Regions from separate parts of the Homo sapiens genome. Here region 1 is linked to region 2. The links come from fine-mapping of genetic effects on gene expression. Tissue or cell type: whole blood. Region 2 holds a variant in brackets; the other region holds the start of a gene. All regions are shown on one strand. Distances are between the middles of the regions.

Evidence for each region. PIP is the estimated chance that this variant, and not a neighbour inherited with it, causes the effect.
Region 1: it holds the start of INCR1, and the variant in region 2 is fine-mapped to the expression of INCR1 in whole blood (TOPMed, PIP above 0.99). The same link has a PIP of 0.9 or more in lung.

The regions. Positions count from the first base shown.
Region 1 is chr9:5,628,626-5,631,233 of GRCh38, forward strand. It overlaps INCR1 (interferon stimulated noncoding RNA 1), which reads right to left and starts at 1,102. Exons shown (of 3, transcript XR_007061406.1): 1 at 942-1,102. It overlaps RIC1 (RIC1 partner of RAB6A GEF complex), which reads left to right and starts at 482. Exons shown (of 26, transcript NM_020829.4): 1 at 482-828. The coding sequence starts at 685. RefSeq lists a silencer at 242-781 and an enhancer at 802-1,302.
Region 2 is chr9:5,576,446-5,579,208 of GRCh38, forward strand. The region is part of intron 1 of INCR1 (interferon stimulated noncoding RNA 1); the gene reads right to left. Among named protein-coding and RNA genes, the nearest start is that of RIC1, 51 kb to the right of the region's middle. The variant T/C (reference allele first, on the strand shown) is at 1,104.

The sequences.
Region 1 (2,608 bases), 52 kb after region 2:
AAACCGCGCCGGCCGTCACGTGACTCCAGCTCCCCCCGGCAACCGGCCCGCCCCCACCGAGACCCCGCCAATCCGGAAGGGAGGTCCAATTTGGCCAGGCCAGGGCGTGTTCCACCGGCCCAGTAGCCTTGCTGCTGCGTTATCCCTAGACTCGCCCCACTTGCCTCGGAGTCTCAGGCCGTTGCCTAGGTCCTCCCGGTAAAACCCTGGAGACTGCTAGGGAGAGGAGCAAGGGAGGGGCCAGCGCGCAGAAGTGCGGACGCAACCCGGCGGCCGCGGGCGAGGCTTATGCAGAGCTTCAAGAAACAGCTAGGGAGACCGCAGGAGTCTCCAGAGCGCGCGCGCGGGCCCTCCCCGGCCCGACCCACGCGGCGCGGCGTGGTGACGCCCGCGCGGCCTGAGGAAGGGGCGGGGTCGGGGCGGGCCTCCGCGCTCCTCCCGCCCTCTCTGTGTCCCTACTCTCCCTCCCCTTCCCTCCCCCACACTCGGCCCCGTCAGCTTGGGGGTGCCTTCGTCGCGCAGCCTTGCGTCGGCCCGGCCCGGCCAGGCCAGCGGGCAGATGCCCCGAGCTGCCGCCGCCGCCGCCGCCGACTCGGCCGGTGGCGGTGTGGGAGGTGGGCGACCAGCCCGGGGCCGCTGAGTGTGACGGACGCAACTGGGGGCGCCGGGGGCTCCGCACGGACCATGTATTTTCTGAGCGGCTGGCCCAAGAGGCTGCTGTGCCCTCTGGGGAGCCCGGCCGAGGCGCCTTTCCACGTTCAGTCCGACCCGCAGAGGGCTTTCTTCGCCGTGCTGGCCGCGGCCCGCCTCAGCATCTGGTACAGCCGAGTAAGTAGAGCCGCCCGCCGCCTTTCGCCGCTGCCTCCCCGGCCTCCCGGCGCCGTCCCACCCCCAACTTCCACCCAGAGCCTAGGACTCCTGCCCCTTCGTGCCAGACCCACCTGCCTTCGCAGTCCGCGTCCTCGTTCCACCGAATTGGCCGCAGGTACCCGCCGGCTGCAGGCACGTCCTCCAGCCGGCGGTCCGGGGTGGATGAAGTCGCTGCTGCCGAAAATCCCTGAGCCTCCCCGCGTTGGACCGACGGCCGCGGCGTGCAGACTCCGCACGCTCCCCGGCCGAGCCCAGACTTGTTCTTCTCTCCCTTCCCCCATTCCCCGAGGGACAAATTTGTTTAAACTTTCCACAATTAGAAATCCGGCCGCTGTGGTGCCCCAACCCTCCCTTACTTTAAAGGTCGCCGTTTTGGAGTTAGGGAAAGCCTCTTGGGCTTTACCCAGCGCCAGACTTTACAGGCCTGTAATAACTTATTTCTACAAACTACAGCCTGAATTCTTTATTCTTCACTAAAGGTCTGGTTATTTAACTCCCCTCTTTAACCCCAACATCCCTTCCCCACTTTCGAGTTGGTCTTTTTCTTTGCTGCTGCTCTTGGACTCTTCGGAATAGGGGGTTAAAGGAGCGGAAGTAGAACTCAAATCTGTCCGCGGAACTCCCAGTTATAACACCTGGAAATAATAAGGCTTGGGAGGAGCATGGAACTGAATTCTGTTTTTGCTTTAAGTCCTGGTTATCTTTTTCTTTCTTGTATTGAATTACTGAGTAGATATGAGAAAGAAATAAGTGGTGGATGGGATACTCCCTACTCTCTGCAAACACTGCTATAACTTTGTCTATGAGAACGACAGAGTTCAGAGTATAAAAATGCTTTTTTTCCTCCCCAAAGAAGGCAGTACCAATCGATGTCAGAGTGAAGTTTTTCTCCTTTCCAAGTTAATTTGACCATGTGGGGATAGGTTGTGATCTTGTCCTTATTAGGTGTTCGTGAAATACTGGTTTTAGTTTGTTAAAATCCCCAAATCTTTGTGTGTTGCTGTTCCATTACCTGTAATGCCCTTGACAGTCCTCACCCACTTCCCTGGTAATACTGGTGATGGGATTTAGTGACGGGTAATTCTGGTGTCTCCTTTGACTGTCATAGTTGGGCTGTAAATCAGACTATTTGCCATCAAGTTTTGGCTGATCTAATTTTCAAATGCAAATCAGAACAAAACAAACTTATAAAATCGTAATACCAACAATATGACTATTTTGTCTAGTGCCTGATTGTATTTTGAATATATATGTATGTATGTGTGTGTGTATATATATAAACATATGTGTAAATATATATAAAGTATCATCTGGTTCCTAAATGAGATATTCGTTTACAATGTATATGCCAGTTGAATAATTTTTAATTTGTTTAGGTGTATATAACTCAACTTTAAAGCACATGCAGAAAAAAATAGAACTTGAATTTAAATTGTCTTTTGAATTTAATACATAATTCCTTTTGAATGTAACAAATTTAGACTTTCGTCTAAAATTTAACTTTTCTTACCTTTAAAAAGGCAGACCTAACTTAATTTTAAATAAAAGTAAACAATATGACCTATGAATTGACCAGAAGCCTGTAAACCACTTTATTCCCCCATAAGAGAAGCATAAACATATGCTTTAATTTAGGGACATTGTGAATATTCTTAAGCATGTCTATTGTTTGGTTTTGGAGTTACATACGACATCTAGAAATCCAAGGCAGTTCTGGAATTTAAACTATTCATACTCT
Region 2 (2,763 bases):
TATCTATTTAATTCTTTTTTTGTGTGTGTGTGTGACGGAGTTTCACTCTTGTTGCCCAGGCTGGAGTGCAATGGCACAATCTCAGCTCACTGCAACCTCCGCCTCCCGGGTTCAAGCGATTCTCCTGCCTCAGCCTCCTGAGTAGCTAGGATTACAGGCATGTGCCACCATACAAAAATAATTTTGTATTTTTAGTAGAGGCGGGGTTTCTCCATGTTGGTCAGGCTGGTCTTGAACTCCCAACCTTGGGTGATCCACCCACCTCAGCCTCCCAAAGTGCTGGGATTTCAAGCATGAGCCACCACGCCCGGCCCACATCTATTTAATTCTTAGAGCCAACCACCACCAAAGATTATTCCTGCTGGTAAAAAATGCTGATCGCTACTCTGGGATCTCATCATCTACATTGAGATCAGGCAGATTTTCCCACCACATCCTTGGCCTATAGAAAGCAGCTGCCTGAACATGTTCAAGGGTGCTGGGGCTTCTCCCATTAAAGCATTTTTCAATGCTTTAGAGAAGAAACTATTCCTTAGGCTCTTTCAGGACCAAGTGTGGTGAGGGAAGAGGCACAGTTACATATAATAAATCACTCCTTTATTTCTATCTCCTTAGAGATTCTAATGGCTTAGGCCATTAGAATCCTTCCTATACATTATTCCAGAGAAATTCTGGCAACTCAACACCATTAAATGTAACCTACCAGTGAGTCCAAATTTCAGCCAATCAACTAAGCAAATAGTGCCATTCACAGCTGCTCTAGCTAATACATTTGTTTCAGCTAGCTTTTGTTGTATAACAAACTATCCAAAACTTAGTGACTTAAAACAACTGTTTATGTTTTTATGATTTTATAGGATAACAATTTGGGCTGGGCTCAGTGGAGGCAACTCATTTGTGCTCTACGTGGTGTCAGTGGGATCATTCATGCATTTGCAGTCAGTTGGCAGTTTGGCTGCCAGATGGCTGGTCTCAGATGGCTTCATTCATATCTTCCTATTGGTGCTGGCTGTTGGTAAAACCACGTATCTTCAGTAGGTTAGTCCAGGCATCTTCAACATAGAGTCTAATCCAAAAACAGCAAAAAAGAAAGAAAACCCCAA[T/C]GTGCAAGTGCTTTCCAAGTCTCTGTTTGTATCACATTTGCTAATAATGTTCCATTATCCAAAGCAAGCACATAACCATGCCAAAAATCAATGTGTAAAGGAATTACATGAAGGCGTGATACCACTACTGTAATCATCTACAACATTAAGTCCAAAACTATCTGGAAAGTGTAGTATATCAGGACTACCTTAATTTGGCCCCAGTTCAATGTTATCTTCTGTGCTCCTGGGTCTAATACCTTTAGAATTCATCCCCATACATACTAGCCTGGTTTCCTCTAATGTTAAGTTAACAAAATCTTATGATTCTTTTGAAGTATAAGACTTTTCCTGCTGAGCTAGACTCTGCTCTTCCCACCTCCGTATATTCCGGGAACTGACTCTAAATAAAGGCCATGAGAGTTGGGAGCACTGGGGCTGAGAAAGAATAGGGATCTCCCTTGCAAGGCAAGTGCCTCATATGGGCTTATTACAGGCTTTCAAACAAGGAAAGGCTAATATCATTAGACAAGAAATGAGAGGCTTCTTCCACTATCAAGGGAAACTCAGGGATGCTTGGGGGTTTCAACATTCTCAGTTTCATCCAAATCCACCAAAATGTCCCCATTCCTAGTCTCAGAGTCCTACTCCTTTCAAATTACTGAGAAAACTTTCACATATGAGACTTAGCCAGTCTGTGAATGATTGATTTGGGTTGAATTTTTCAGTCATGTCTTTCATGTCTAGTGATTCCTGTAATTAGAAGGAATAAGAGGTACTTTCAGGGCAGTCTTAGAAGCCCTCTGGTGCTCTGAATATGATTTGAGGTGAAAGCCCTAAACTTGTTAGTTTCTTCCTGTAAGCACCCTGGTGCAATCAGAAGCAGCCATCCCACATTACATTCCTTATAATCATCTTTACTACCATAATGGTTAAATGCAACAGCTACTTGGCCTCCAGAAACTTGCCTTTCATTGGTATTCAACCCTAGCAAGAACAGATGATAATTTAATCAACCATGATGTCAATGCATGCCATAGATTACTAGTGGCAAAGAGTTCAGCTCTCAATTCAAACCAATCCAACACTAACAACAAATCAAATCAATCCCAGAATGTCAGAATTTGAGAATCTGTTTCCTATGACCACACCTAGTATCAAGTGCTAGTATCAGCCAGAGTCCAGTCATAAAAATAGAGTGTATTTAATATTAGGAACTTGTAATAAAGATATAAGAAGACTGAAAGAGCAAAAAAGTGGATGCCAAATATTAGAACTACAGACAGCAGCTACCTTTCTACTACCTATTGCTACAGGCATGACACATTCAGGAACTAGAAACAGGAAATAATTCCCCCTCCCACCTTCCAGTCCCCAAGGCCTTCCCATTTACTGAACTTAACAGGAAGCTAGCTGGCAAGGGAGGCTGGCAAATGAAGTTTGTCAAAATTCCAGCCCTGGCACATCAGAGCAGAGGAGAGGAGGATGGACTTAGAGTTGAGAACAGGAGGTACATAACCAACTCACTCCTCAATCAAAATCTATCTGGATGAAGTGGAGACATATCCATTAAGAGATAAAAAATAAAGAGACTATAAATTCCAATTAGATTGTAGCACAAGGAATTGTCTTAAACTCTGTGGCATCTGACCCTGTAACAAGGGCCCAATGTATATTTGTT